Homo sapiens: one gene and its partners. The protein of the gene in region 1 purifies or fractionates together with the protein of each later gene. This does not show direct contact. Each region holds a gene or a part of one and is shown in the gene's direction. Other genes may lie near its edges.

What was found.
Region 2: the proteins of FCF1 (region 1) and ACP3 purify together in Homo sapiens (affinity purification with mass spectrometry; 2 studies listed by BioGRID and IntAct, with this or other methods). This does not show direct contact.
Region 3: the proteins of FCF1 (region 1) and SDR9C7 purify together in Homo sapiens (affinity purification with mass spectrometry; 2 studies listed by BioGRID and IntAct, with this or other methods). This does not show direct contact.
Region 4: the proteins of FCF1 (region 1) and IL1RN purify together in Homo sapiens (affinity purification with mass spectrometry; 2 studies listed by BioGRID and IntAct, with this or other methods). This does not show direct contact.

The regions. Positions count from the first base shown.
Region 1 is NC_000014.9:74,733,644-74,737,143, forward strand, and holds part of FCF1 (rRNA-processing protein FCF1 homolog), read left to right. Parts: intron 1-432; coding exon 433-527; intron 528-1,238; coding exon 1,239-1,287; 3' UTR 1,288-3,500. UniProt on the Homo sapiens protein: Part of the small subunit (SSU) processome, first precursor of the small eukaryotic ribosomal subunit.
Region 2 is NC_000003.12:132,355,407-132,359,341, forward strand, and holds the end of ACP3 (prostatic acid phosphatase isoform PAP precursor), read left to right. Parts: intron 1-1,279; coding exon 1,280-1,472; 3' UTR 1,473-3,435; downstream 3,436-3,935. UniProt on the Homo sapiens protein: A non-specific tyrosine phosphatase that dephosphorylates a diverse number of substrates under acidic conditions (pH 4-6) including alkyl, aryl, and acyl orthophosphate monoesters and phosphorylated proteins.
Region 3 is NC_000012.12:56,924,409-56,927,908, reverse strand, and holds part of SDR9C7 (short-chain dehydrogenase/reductase family 9C member 7), read left to right. Parts: intron 1-3,500. UniProt on the Homo sapiens protein: Plays a crucial role in the formation of the epidermal permeability barrier.
Region 4 is NC_000002.12:113,126,314-113,130,397, forward strand, and holds the start of IL1RN (interleukin-1 receptor antagonist protein isoform 1 precursor), read left to right. Parts: upstream 1-1,284; 5' UTR 1,285-1,311; coding exon 1,312-1,427; intron 1,428-3,262; coding exon 3,263-3,351; intron 3,352-4,084. UniProt on the Homo sapiens protein: Anti-inflammatory antagonist of interleukin-1 family of proinflammatory cytokines such as interleukin-1beta/IL1B and interleukin-1alpha/IL1A.

The DNA.
Region 1 (3,500 bases):
GTAGGCCCAGAGCACACCCAAGCCCCAAGATCTAGGGAAAGGAGGGAGCTATGGCCTCCAAATTAAGGCACTTTTTATCTCCATGGAGTTCCTCGGAGCATTTTCCCAAAACTAAAGAATTGTCTGCCCCAAGTGTGAAAGTCCCTTTCATTTATGAGCAGAAAACAGTTTGCAGCTTGTGAAAAGTTTTCTACCTTCTCCTCCTCAAGATTCTAAATGCTGCATTCAGCCCAGGCAACTTGTTTATTTTATATAACAAGATTAGGAGCTCCTAGATCATAGTAGGTACTCAACAAATTGTTATAGCCTGCCCTTCGCTACTTACTGTGAAAATGAACGATTCTCAGACTGGTCAGTCGTTGTGCCATTATCCAGTATTCACTAAGCGTGCTCAGTGACCTCAGTGTGAACATCACTCCATGTCTCTTACAGCATAAGTGTTACATTGTGGCCACAGTTGACCGGGACCTGAAAAGAAGAATCCGTAAGATTCCTGGAGTTCCTATCATGTACATTTCTAACCATAGGTGAGAAATTTCCCTTGGAGAAGGGAATAGAAATATATAATTGATATCAATTGAAAATGAGGATAAGTGATAAGGTTATAAAGGATTTGAAAGAAATTATTGTATCAAATGTTTACATAGTTATATTTGAAGAAATGAGACAAAGCAAGAGCAAGAGCAAAAGAGAGAGATAGGATTTAAGGAATGAGGCAAACATTTAAATTGTTAGAGTAAGATTACTGGAAGAAATAGACGTATTGTTTTAAATAAAAGCAGTAATTTAAATCAAGCTAATCTTTTTGGCCAGAAATACCTGTTTTGAAAGATTTTTTTTTATTAACACTTCATCTGAGAAATGGAAAGCTTATTTAAAAAAAAAAAAAGCTGTTATCCTTCTTGGCTATTTTTTGTCAGTACTCAGACTTATTTTCCAGCTTTTCAGCTTGAGGAGAGCACAATGTGGTGGGAAGTCTGTGGACTAAGAAGTTGGACTTACTGATCTCAGCTCCTCAGTTCCCCTCTTGCTGACTTTGTGACTTTGAAAAAACAATCATATTGTATTATAGTCAGCATTTTGCTGTAAATCATTCATTATGATGTTCCCCTAAATTGTTTCCACTGACAAAAAGGATTCACAGTGGGGGTGAGAGTATTGCAGTCTATAAAGGATGGGTTTTTAGATGGGTTCTCTTCCCATCTTTCTTACCGGTGTTGATTTTTTGTCCTGATCAGATACAACATTGAACGGATGCCAGATGATTATGGAGCCCCTCGATTCTAATTCTTACAAGACACAGTTCCTCTGCCTTTCTTCGACCAACTTTCTCTTGTTGCCAGTTCATTACACAAAATGTAGCGGGATTTTTAAGGAATCAGAGAGACTGATGGAGTTCAGGGAGATATTTATTATTTAGGTGCACCAGCCCAGTCAGATTAACATCCAAAGGACTGAACCCTGAACAGAGTTAAGTTACCTTTTAAGCATTTTGTGGGGCCGCGGGGGTTGGGGGGAATCTGTGCAGGGGGAAGCATATTACAGAAGCAAGAAAGACAGTTATTCAATTAACTGAGACATGCATTACATCATTTCTTACTTTTCAAGGAAAATCATGTTTTACGACTTGAGTTTATCTGTCTAGTTACCTTGCAGCTGCACAGCTAGAGAAACAGGGTATTTACAATGCCTGGGAAAGGAGGAGAGATAAGGCTCACTAGCCACAGAAAAACAGGCAGTTAATTTTTAAAGGACTCCAGCTCTTTCTCTTTCTCACGGGGAATTGGATTTTCTTACATGCAACTGAATTTCTGCTTACACATTTTTAAATTTCTTTTAATTGCTTTTCCAATGCAATAGCATGAATTATTATTCTGTTGACCTATTTGCCTTACTATGAGCTGAGGGTAGTTCAATATGCTCACTCTTTTTTTTTTTTTTCTTGAGATGAAGTTTTGCTCTGTCACCAGGCTGGAGTGCAGTGGCGTGATCTGGGCTCACTGCAACCCCTGCCTCCCATCCTTCAAGTGATTCTCCTGCCTCAGCCTCCCGAGTAGCTGGGATTACAGGTACACACCACCATGCTCAACTAATTTTTCTTTTTTGGGCGGGGGGGGTGGATATTTTTAGTAGAGACAAATACTTTTGTATTTTTAATACAGAAAAGTATGCCTCGGCCTCCCAAAGTGCTGGAATTACAGACATGAGCCACTGTGCCTGGCCTGCTCACTTTCTGATGCTGCTTTTTTGTTGTTTGTTTGTTTATTTGTTTGTTTTGAGACGGAGTCTCGCTCTGTCACCAGGCTGGAGTGCAGTGGCGCAATCTCGGCTCATTGCAACCTCCGCCTCCCAGGTTCAAGCGATTCTCCTGCCTCAGCCTGCGGAGTAGCTGGGACTATAGGTGCGTGCCACCACGTCCAGCCACTGATGCTGTTTTGCCACTGATGCTGTTTTGAAATTGATATTTTGTCTCATAAAAACTAGGCCAGGCATGGTGGCTCATTCCTGTAATCCCAGCACTTTGGGAGGCCAAGGTGGGTGGATCACCTGAGGTCAGGAGTTGGAGATGAGCCTGGACAACATGGCAAAACCCCACCTCTACTAAAAATACAAAAAAAATTAGCTGGGTATGGTGTCACGTGCCTGTAATCCCAGCCACTGGGGAGGCTGAGGCAGGAGAACCTCTTGAACCCAGGAGGTGGAGGTTGCAGTGAGCTGAGATTGCGCCACTGCATTCCAGCCTGGGTGACAGAGTGAGACTGTCTCAAAAAAAAAAAAAAATTAATGATGGTCAAAGGGTATAAAATCTCAGACAGGAAGAATATGTTTTATGCTTTTTTTGAGTTCTGTTGTACAGTGTGGTGCCTATACTTAATAATGGGGTATTATACATTTCAAAATTGATGTTCTCATCACAGAAATGTATTTGAAGTATTGCATATGTTAACTAGCTTGATTTAACTATTCCATATTGTATCCACAATTTATGATATCACTTTGTAACCCATACATTTATACAATTATAAATTGTCAATTTACAATAAAAAATTTTTGTTGCGTCTTTTTAGAAATCAGATATTCTGATGATTGCTCACATAATTTGGCGGTCATTGTTTTATACTGACTTACTCAATAAACATTTATTAAATGTATACTAGGTGCTTAATAAGAGATGGTCCTGCCCTCAAGACACTCATTATGGTGGGAAAGAAAAACATGTAAATGAATAAATGCCGTAAAATAGCAGTGCTAGGGTAAAAGTTTCAGAGGCATGTCATGGGCACATAAAGGTGGAATGATTTTTTTCTACTGGTTGGGATGGAGAGGGAGGAAAGGCCAGTGGTCATGTGGTTTGAGCTAATCTTAAAAATGAATAGGTGCCTCCCCAGTAAATTAGGAATGGAAGATGAAGCATAGGAAACAGTACACCATAGAAAATCCATTAACCTATGTATAATCCCAGCACTTTGGGAGACTGAGGTGGGCAGATCACTTGAGGT
Region 2 (3,935 bases), on another chromosome or scaffold:
TTCCAAGATATAAGTACCCATTCATAATACATATTAGGGAGGTTTTTGTAAGTTTTATAGACATCTTATTTTATTTTATCTTATTTTATTTTATTTTATTTTATTTTTATTTTATTTTATTTTATTTTTGAGATGGAGTCTCGCTCTGTTGCCCAGGCTAGAGTGTAGTGGCGTGATCTCGGCTAACTGCAACCTCCACCTCCCAGGTTCAAGTGATTCTCCCGCCCCAGCCTCCCAAATAGCTGGGACTATAGGCATGTGCCACCACACCCAGCTAATTTTTGTATTTTTAGTAGAGACGGGGTTTCACCGTGTTAGCCAGGATGGTCTCGATCTCCTGACCTCGTGATCCACCCGCCTCGACCTCCCAAAGTGCTGGGATTACAGGCGTGAGCCACTGCGCCCAGCCTTATAGACATAAGTGAATATTTGCTGTTACTATGTTTATATGGCTTTTTAAAGTGATGTTTTAAAAGGCTTGTTTATAATGACAACCAAAAGTAGCCATTGTAAGGTTACACCAAAAGAAGGATCTCTAAATCCTTCTTGAGTTCCCCTCCTGACTCCTTGATTAGCAAATGGCTTCCATAAGCAACTCACGCTGGTTTAACTCAGGTTAGTTTACACCATTGGACCTTCCCAAATAGTACATTGTTTTTTTGAGATAAAGCATTGAGAGAGCTCTCCTTAACGTGACACAATGGAAGGACTGGAACACATACCCACATCTTTGTTCTGAGGGATAATTTTCTGATAAAGTCTTGCTGTATATTCAAGCACATATGTTATATATTATTCAGTTCCATGTTTATAGCCTAGTTAAGGAGAGGGGAGATACATTCAGAAAGAGGACTGAAAGAAATACTCAAGTAGGAAAACAGAAAAAGAAAAAAAGGAGCAAATGAGAAGCCTAAAAAGAAGGGAGGAGGAGAAGGAAAACCCAACACCCCCACCTGCCTCCCACTTCTTATCCAAAGGCTCAAAGTCCCACCCAGCTCCCTGCAACCATCACTTCTCACCACCTCCTCTGATTTAGCATCCTGGTGCCTACCTCCTATGTCCCTGTTCATCTAACAAACCAGCCCTCCCATTTCCACCCTGCAAATCTCTCCCGCCTGCCCCAGTCTCCCCATTTACACACCTAAATTGGCTAAAATCTCCCCATAAGTTTTTCCATTAGTCCCTCAACTGGCATGTAATAGTCCAAGTGGAAAGAAATTCAGTGGCAGTTCAACAACACAGAACTAACAGAGCTCTCTCCTCTGCCTTTGTCTGCCAGGGAGTACTTTGTGGAGATGTACTATCGGAATGAGACGCAGCACGAGCCGTATCCCCTCATGCTACCTGGCTGCAGCCCCAGCTGTCCTCTGGAGAGGTTTGCTGAGCTGGTTGGCCCTGTGATCCCTCAAGACTGGTCCACGGAGTGTATGACCACAAACAGCCATCAAGGTACTGAAGACAGTACAGATTAGTGTGCACAGAGATCTCTGTAGAAGGAGTAGCTGCCCTTTCTCAGGGCAGATGATGCTTTGAGAACATACTTTGGCCATTACCCCCAGCTTTGAGGAAAATGGGCTTTGGATGATTATTTTATGTTTTAGGGACCCCCAACCTCAGGCAATTCCTACCTCTTCACCTGACCCTGCCCCCACTTGCCATAAAACTTAGCTAAGTTTTGTTTTGTTTTTCAGCGTTAATGTAAAGGGGCAGCAGTGCCAAAATATAATCAGAGATAAAGCTTAGGTCAAAGTTCATAGAGTTCCCATGAACTATATGACTGGCCACACAGGATCTTTTGTATTTAAGGATTCTGAGATTTTGCTTGAGCAGGATTAGATAAGGCTGTTCTTTAAATGTCTGAAATGGAACAGATTTCAAAAAAAAACCCCACAATCTAGGATGGGAACAAGGAAGGAAAGATGTGAATAGGCTGATGGGCAAAAAACCAATTTACCCATCAGTTCCAGCCTTCTCTCAAGGAGAGGCAAAGAAAGGAGATACAGTGGAGACATCTGGAAAGTTTTCTCCACTGGAAAACTGCTACTATCTGTTTTTATATTTCTGTTAAAATATATGAGGCTACAGAACTAAAAATTAAAACCTCTTTGTGTCCCTTGGTCCTGGAACATTTATGTTCCTTTTAAAGAAACAAAAATCAAACTTTACAGAAAGATTTGATGTATGTAATACATATAGCAGCTCTTGAAGTATATATATCATAGCAAATAAGTCATCTGATGAGAACAAGCTATTTGGGCACAACACATCAGGAAAGAGAGCACCACGTGATGGAGTTTCTCTAGAAGCTCCAGTGATAAGAGATGTTGACTCTAAAGTTGATTTAAGGCCAGGCATGGTGGTTTACGCCTATAATCCCAGCATTTTGGGAGTCCGAGGTGGGCAGATCACTTGAGCTCAGGAGGTCAAGATCAGCCTGGGCAACATGGTGAAACCTGGTCTCTACATAAAATACAAAAACTTAGATGGGCATGGTGGTGTGTGCCTATAGTCCCACTACTTGTGGGGCTAAGGCAGGAGGATCACTTGAGCCCCGGAGGTCGAGGCTACAGTGAGCCAAGAGTGCACTACTGTACTCCAGCCAGGGCAAGAGAGCGAGACCCTGTCTCAATAAATAAATAAATAAATAAATAAATAAATAAATAAATAAATAAAAACAAAGTTGATTAAGAAAGGAAGTATAGGCCAGGCACAGTGGCTCACACCTGTAATCCTTGCATTTTGGAAGGCTGAGGCAGGAGGATCACTTTAGGCCTGGTGTGTTCAAGACCAGCCTGGTCAACATAGTGAGACACTGTCTCTACCAAAAAAAGGAAGGAAGGGACACATATCAAACTGAAACAAAATTAGAAATGTAATTATGTTCTAAGTGCCTCCAAGTTCAAAACTTATTGGAATGTTGAGAGTGTGGTTACGAAATACGTTAGGAGGACAAAAGGAATGTGTAAGTCTTTAATGCCGATATCTTCAGAAAACCTAAGCAAACTTACAGGTCCTGCTGAAACTGCCCACTCTGCAAGAAGAAATCATGATATAGCTTTGCCATGTGGCAGATCTACATGTCTAGAGAACACTGTGCTCTATTACCATTATGGATAAAGATGAGATGGTTTCTAGAGATGGTTTCTACTGGCTGCCAGAATCTAGAGCAAAGCCATCCCCGCTCCTGGTTGGTCACAGAATGACTGACAAAGACATCGATTGATATGCTTCTTTGTGTTATTTCCCTCCCAAGTAAATGTTTGTCCTTGGGTCCATTTTCTATGCTTGTAACTGTCTTCTAGCAGTGAGCCAAATGTAAAATAGTGAATAAAGTCATTATTAGGAAGTTCAAAAGCATTGCTTTTATAATGAACTTAGAAAAACGTATGTGTGTGTGTTTAATTAGAATAAAATTCCTCTAGGCAGATTTCAGGAGCTCCCTTTGTGTTTGGGGTTTTTGTTTTAGTATAACAAGATGGAAAATATTAATATAAAGTAAAATGATTTGACTGGCTTAAATGAACATTTTACATTGAAAATATAGTTTGGACTTTACCACTTCAGATAAAGGTGAAGCTGTGGATGGCTCTGCCTCATCTATTTAAGATGGAATTTGCTAAGGAAACACCCTCAGGAAGTGCACAATATACTAGGGAAGTAAAGAGATACATACTGTACAACATGGAAAAACCAGGGCTATGTCTTATGACTACACAGATTACTGTGGGAACAAGAGTTATCCAGATTTGGAGTAGGGGAAGTAAGGAAGGTCAGGAAAGGCTTTCTGCAGAAGGTAGCAACTGTACCACGTAAAATCAGTTTGAGGCCAGGCGAGGTGGCTCAGGCCTGTAATCCCAGCACTTTGGGAGGCCAAGGTGGGCGGATCACAAGGTCAGGAGATTGAGACCATCCTGGCTAACACGGTGAAACCCCAT
Region 3 (3,500 bases), on another chromosome or scaffold:
GAATTTCTTGCCTCACCTGACTAAAAAGTTGAGCAAGATAAGCTTCAGGTACAACCTGACCCAGACTGCAAATGATGTTGCTAGGACCTGGTTCCACCCATTTCTTGGCTCTGCTTCTTTTGCACTGACTCCAGTCTCTAAGCTCTCTCCCCTGTGGGAGCCACATTGCTGCAGCCTCTCTTCACCTCCACCTAGGGTGAGGTCTGCTGGGAAAATAGGAGAGTTATTTCCAGTACCTCTCCCAAAAGTCCTAATGTACACTCCGACTTGGAGGACCTTATGGTGACCGCGTCATGGGGGACCACAAGATGCACCCAACCCTAAACCAATCACTGCGCCCAGGGGAATGTGAAGGTGTGATTGGCTCAGGCTGGGCTGTGTGCTCTGCCCAGACCAATGGACACAGTGTGGGGGAGGCATAGGTCCCCAGAGGGAAATCTGCAGCTGTTGGGAACAAGGAGAGAAGATGTTAGCATGTGTGGGGAAGAATATTTATCCTCTGTGTGATCATTCTTAGCAAAGAGTAGTTCAAATTATTTGTGGAGCTGCTTGGAGGCTGGGGTGAAATGGGTTCAGCCAGTGTCTGGAAACCTCACAAAGTCATTTTCTAAGTAAGCACTCAGGGTGAAGAGAGCTTGTAGCATCTTTAGTGTGGTCCATGAAAGAATATGTATAAAGGCAAACTCCTCCGAAAACCTTGTCCAAAAGCTAGTATTGTACTAAAGAATAGTAAGGATTGGGTTTATAAAATATCTTAGGCCAATTCACCTGTAGTCCACACCATAATTTCAGAGGAAAATTTTCAGGCAGTGGTCAACTACATTTAGATAAACGTTTTCCCAAGTGGTTATACTAGAATTTTTGCTTCAGTTGCCCAGTGTTTATTGGGATTCAGAGATGAGACACTCTCCAGGAAACTAGCAGGGAAGATGTGAAAGCAAATACACCACCACATGAAGAATCTTGCTATAATGGACATGCATACAAAACAAAGCAGCAATGCAGACTTCATTCTGCTGTCACAGAAGCCTTACAGAGGTGACAGTTAATGCCTTAGTGAGTTTTGAAGGATGAATAGGAGTACACCAAAAGGGAAAGAGATGGCGGATGTTTCACACAAGAGGAAGGGTGTGAGCAACGTTTTAGTGACCTGACATAGCATTGTATGCTTTTGGAGGCAGTGCAGATTCAGGCTTGTATTCCAGCAGTCCCTCTAATCATGTTGTATAGCTCTCCAAACTTGTTTATCCATTTATAAAGTACAATTCCTCTCTCATGGATTGTTAGGAGAATTAAACAGAAATGCAAAGTACTCAGCTCTGCTACAGTAAGAGCTGAACAAACCTTTGCCATTGCCATTATAGTCTGGCAGGAGTGCTGTGGGTGATGATTGAGGAGGGGAGAGATTAGGAGTCAGATCATGAAATGCTTTGATTGCTATAGTAGGGAGCATGGCTCTTATCCTAAAGGCATTAGAGAGCCTTGTAAATGGCTCTGAAATGAAGGATCAGATTTGTGTCACCGTGGGAAGGATAAAAAGTCCACCTGGGGGACTACTGCAGAAACCCAGTGAAGGAACGATAAAGACATGAAGTTGTAAGTCCTGATGGTTCTGGTGGTGGGGGGTGGCTATGTGACAGACAGAAGAGATATTTAGGAGTAGTCCTAGAGCATCGCTGGGTACAAACTCAGCCAGTTGCTGTGACTGACCAAACAGGCCCCTGGCTTGTAACCCCTAGGACCAGGCCTGATACTTTATAGATTTTGTCCTGCTTAATTCTCCCAATAACAAAAACATTTTCCCAGGTGCCCAGCTCCAAAGCCTATGTCCTTCCTCACTGTGAAGGAGAGTGACAAAGCTGGATGGGTCCTTCCGTCTCCCATCCTACTCCATGCCTAGCAGGGTGCCCAGCACTGAATGGCAGCTAATATCTATTTGAGAAAACAATGAAAGCAAGTGCCTCATACCATTCCCCATGTCTGGGGTAACTTCTCCCACCCCACTGCCTGTGCAAGCCCTCCCCACCTCTCAGAACCCAGTCCCCAGCCCATCTCACCATGTCAGCTTGCTCCACATCCTCAGCCCACAAAGCTTTCCCTGGCGCCGAGGGGGCAGAGAGAGCCTCCTGGGCATCCTGAACGATTCCTTCGACCCTCAGCCCTGCTGCTGGTGGCCTCTGTGCCAGCTCTACGGTCAGAGGTCAGGGTGTGGCTTCCTAAGACATTACTGCTTTATGGACAGTCTGGCTTTGAGTTAGTGTGGCTCTTGTTGAGATCCCAAAATATAGTTTGGCTTTTCCCCTGCATCAGTTTTCTTTCCAGGAAACAGAAAATGGAGTTTCTCGGAGTCTGGGGTGAAGGGGACTGAAGTGATGCTGCCCCATTCTCACCAACCACCCACAAGGGTCCTGGCCCCAAGCGGGTGAATTCCTTGCCTGCCTGGACCATTCTCAAAGTCAGGGCAGCTTTGGCTTCCTCTCCATTTTCAAGTTTTCATACCTTATCAGGGCAGTCTGACTTTGAAGCATCATTTTCCCTGGAGTCCTCAGGGCTCTCAATGAAGCATGAATCCCCCTGTCCTGGGGTGAGGATGCAGATGAGGGCCTGGTGGGTGTGTGGTGTGGCCCTTCTCCCATTTATGTCATGAACTTTGGCAGACTTGTACTATTTGGGTGCTCTGTCCCCATCTCCACCCCTGTGGGTCAATGCAAACAGAACAACTCCTCACATTTGTGAGGGCCCCACGAGGTGCTTGTCTATGCCTTAGATTATTTGAGTGACAGTGGCCTTATGACTGAGGTAGGGGCAGTATTACTATTTTTAAATAATATTTTCTCCTGCATGTTTTTGTTTAAATGTGGGAACTCTAGGAAGTACATAGAAGAAAAAAAAAAGGGCTGTTTTCCCATCATGTTTGCTCTTCTGTACTCCCCCAGTGTCTACCCTGCTGTTAATCATCTTTGTTATTCTCCAGGACAGATATTTTTTGAGATGGAGTCTCACTCTGTTGCCCAGGCTGGAATGCAGTGGCGCGATCTTGGGTCACTGCAACCTCCCACTCCTGAGTTCAAGTGATTGTCATGCCTCAGCCTCCTGAGTAGCTGCGATTATAGGCACGCGCCACCACGCTCACCTAATTTTTGTATTTTTAGTAGAGACAAGGTGTCACCATGTTGGCCAGGCTGGTCTCAAACTCCTGACCTCAGGTGATTGGCCTGGCTTGGCATCCCAAAGTACTGGGATTACAGGCCTGAGCCACTATGCCCAAACTTTAGGAAAGATAGTATTATCTCCATTTTATAGACAATAAAAGTTTAAGCTCAAAGTCATATAACTAATAAGCGGCACAGTTATAAGGAGAATGTGCACAGTTCTTCTCATCACCAGTCTAATGCAATAGTAGGACTTCAATGCACAATTGTTGAATTCAGAAAGATAAATAAGACTATTTGTTTATTTATTTATTTATTTATTTATTTTGAGACAGCGTGTCATTCTGT
Region 4 (4,084 bases), on another chromosome or scaffold:
AAGACCTGGATTTCTCTGCATACTTTTGCCATCAGCAAGCTGTGTGACCTTGGACAGATCCCTTTTTTGTCTAAATCTTTCTGAGTCTTCTTGAAAACAATGCCAGGTTGGGACAGGATGATTGCCAAGCTCCCGTCCAGCTCTAAAACACTGCAACGTATGCTTCTGCACCAGCACTGTCCATCCTGTAGATCATGCAGAAATTCTCTTCAACTTTTTCCTACCCATAAAATAGGAGCATGCTTACCTTTTTCCTAATGTTCCAGGCCCCGGGTCTAGAATATTGTAAGTAAGGAAGTTAATGTGTATCAGAGCCCATTATGGGCCAGAAGTTCTCCTCTTCCTTCCTACACCTGCTTCCTCCCTCCCTCCCTCCCTCTTTCCCTTCCTTCCTTCCATCCATTTGTGAAGAAGACATGATCACCCTCATTCTGAGAGTGAAGAGACAGAGGCTCAACTAATGAAATGATTTGTTCAAGGTCACACGGGTGGCACAAGGCAAGTGGCAGAGGTTGAATTTAGACCCATTCCTGTCCAAATGCTGAGTTTATGTCATCGTCCCGAGACCATAACTTTAAAGATGTAAGATAGTGGGAAAAGAGTTGATTTCAAAGCACCTCTCAGAAGGACTCACTTTACATCAGGGGTCAGCAGACTCAGGCCAAATCCGGTCCATTCCCCGCTTTTGCAAAGAAAGTTGTAGTGGAACACAGCTAGGCTTATTGATTTATGGATTGCCAACGTCCTTTTGTGAAACAGACAGCTGAGCTGAGTAATCGTGGCGCACAAAACCTAAAATATTTACTATCTCGTCCTTTACAGAATGTTTGCCAATCTATGGTCCGGAGTCCAAGGCTGTCCATTTTTCAAAGAACACAAAGTGACATGAGACTGTCCCATGTGCAGGGAGCCCTATCATTTTATTATGAAAAAACGGCCTTTCTGCTCAAATCTGTTTTTTAAAAAGTCAACAAACAGACTCTGGGTACCTGTCAGGAACAGTAGGGAGTTTGGTTTCCATTGTGCTCTTCTTCCCAGGAACTCAATGAAGGGGAAATAGAAATCTTAATTTTGGGGAAATTGCACAGGGGAAAAAGGGGAGGGAATCAGTTACAACACTCCATTGCGACACTTAGTGGGGTTGAAAGTGACAACAGCAAGGGTTTCTCTTTTTGGAAATGCGAGGAGGGTATTTCCGCTTCTCGCAGTGGGGCAGGGTGGCAGACGCCTAGCTTGGGTGAGTGACTATTTCTTTATAAACCACAACTCTGGGCCCGCAATGGCAGTCCACTGCCTTGCTGCAGTCACAGAATGGAAATCTGCAGAGGCCTCCGCAGTCACCTAATCACTCTCCTCCTCTTCCTGTTCCATTCAGAGACGATCTGCCGACCCTCTGGGAGAAAATCCAGCAAGATGCAAGCCTTCAGGTAAGGCTACCCCAAGGAGGAGAAGGTGAGGGTGGATCAGCTGGAGACTGGAAACATATCACAGCTGCCAGGGGCTGCCAGGCCCCAGAGGGCCTGAGAACTGGGTTTGGGCTGGAGAGGATGTCCATTATTCAAGAAAGAGGCTGTTACATGCATGGGCTTCAGGACTTGTGTTTCAAAATATCCCAGATGTGGATAGTGCGACCGGAGGGCTGTCTTACTTTCCCAGAGACTCAGGAACCCAGTGAGTAATAGATGCATGCCAAGGAGTGGGACTGCGATTCAGGCCTAGTTGAATGTGCTGACAGAGAAGCAGAGAGGGGCACCAGGGGCACAGCCCGAAGGCCCAGACTGATATGGGCAAGGCCTGTCTGTGCTGACATGTCGGAGGGTCCCACTCTCCAGGGACCTTGGTTTCCCCGTCTGTGACATCTGTGACATGAGAGTCACGATAACTCCTTGTGTGCCTTACAGGGTTGTTGTGAAAATTAAATGCACAGATAATAGCGTAACAGTATTCCGTGCATTGTAAAGAGCCTGAAAACCATTATGATTTGAAAATGGAATCGGCTTTGTGAGACCATCACTATTGTAAAGATGTGATGCTGATAGAAATGACAGGACTGCTTGTGCATGCCCTCTGCAGTGTGACATTCCAGCAGTGAAATCATGTTGGGGTGACTTCTCCCCCACTCTGACCTTTATGTTTGTCTGGGCCGAGGCTGCAAGTCGGGCTCTGTGGGTGTATGAGTGACAAGTCTCTCCCTTCCAGATATGGGGACTGTCTGCTTCCCTAGGTTGCCTCTCCCTGCTCTGATCAGCTAGAAGCTCCAGGAGATCCTCCTGGAGGCCCCAGCAGGTGATGTTTATCCCTCCAGACTGAGGCTAAATCTAGAAACTAGGATAATCACAAACAGGCCAATGCTGCCATATGCAAAGCACTTTGGTTTGCCTGGCCACCCCTCGTCGAGCATGTGGGCTCTTCAGAGCCACCTGATGAGGTGGGTACAGTTAGCCACACTTCACAGGTGAAGAGGTGAGGCACAGGTCCCAGGTCAGGCTGGCCAGAGCTCTGTTTATTACGTCTCACAGCTTTGAGTCCTGCTCTCAACCAGAGAGGCCCTTTACCAAGAAGAAAGGATTGGGACCCAGAATCAGGTCACTGGCTGAGGTAGAGAGGAAGCCGGGTTGTTCCCAAGGGTAGCTGCTCCTGCAGGACTCTGAGCAGGTCACCAGCTAATGGAGGAAAGGCTCTAGGGAAAGACCCTTCTGGTCTCAGACTCAGAGCGAGTTAGCTGCAAGGTGTTCCGTCTCTTGAAACTTCTACCTAGGTGCTATGGTAGCCACTAGTCTCAGGTGGCTATTTAAATTTATACTTAAATGAATGAAAATAGAAGAAAATTTAAAATCCAGACCCTTGGTCACACTATCCACATTTAAAGAGGTCAATAGCCACATGTGGTTAGTGGCCACCCTATTGGGCAGTGCAGCTACAGAACATTTTTGCATCCCAGAAAGTTCTTTTGGATGTTGCTGCTCTACAGCATGCTTTGCTGAAACAGAAGTGCCTTCCCTGGGAATCTCAGATGGGAAGCAAGTAAGGAGGGGAGTCAAATGTGGGCTCACTGCTCACCAGCTGTGAGGGTTGGGCCTGCCTCTTAACCATTGTCAGCCTCAGTCTTCTCATCCATGCATGCCGTGGGTATACTAAAATACTATACCCCTGGAAGAGCTGGATGCAAATTTGACAAGTTCTGGGGGACACAGGAAGGTGCCAAGCACAAGGCTGGGCACATGGTGGCTGTGCACTACAGCTGAGTCCTTTTCCTTTTCAGAATCTGGGATGTTAACCAGAAGACCTTCTATCTGAGGAACAACCAACTAGTTGCTGGATACTTGCAAGGACCAAATGTCAATTTAGAAGGTGAGTGGTTGCCAGGAAAGCCAATGTATGTGGGCATCACGTCACTTTGCCCGTCTGTCTGCAGCAGCATGGCCTGCCTGCACAAACCCTAGGTGCAATGTCCTAATCCTTGTTGGGTCTTTGTATTCAAGTTTGAAGCTGGGAGGGCCTGGCTACTGAAGGGCACATATGAGGGCAGCCTGAAGAGGGTGTGGAGAGGTAGAGTCTAGGTCAGAGGTCAGTGCCTATAGGCACAGTGGTCCCAGGGCCACAGCTGGGAAGGGCAAATACCAGAAGGCAAGGTTGACCATTCCCTTCCTCAAGTGCCTATTAAGGCTCCATGTTCCTATGTTGTTCAAACCCTAACTCAATCCCAAATTAATCCACCATGTATAAGGTTGAGCTATGTCTCTTATTCCTGGACACCATACTCAGCCATATTCTGGTCCACACATTAAACAAGCTGGATGACCTTGAAGAAGCTTCACCCACTCTGTTCCTCAGCTTTCCCTTCAGTGGGATGATATCAACTGGACAACAGGATGTGCGATTCTTTTAGTTCCAGCCTTCCAGGATGTTTTCACTCCCCTGTTTGTTGTTGTAGGATGGTATTACCTCCACCTTCCCACCTTCCCTATGCCCTGGTTCTGTCTCCTGTGCCTCGCTCTGAAAGTGGATGAGACCTACAATTCCTGTCCTGGTAGTTCTCCTAATGAACACACTGAAGCACGAGGAAGCTGAGATTTTTGTTGCT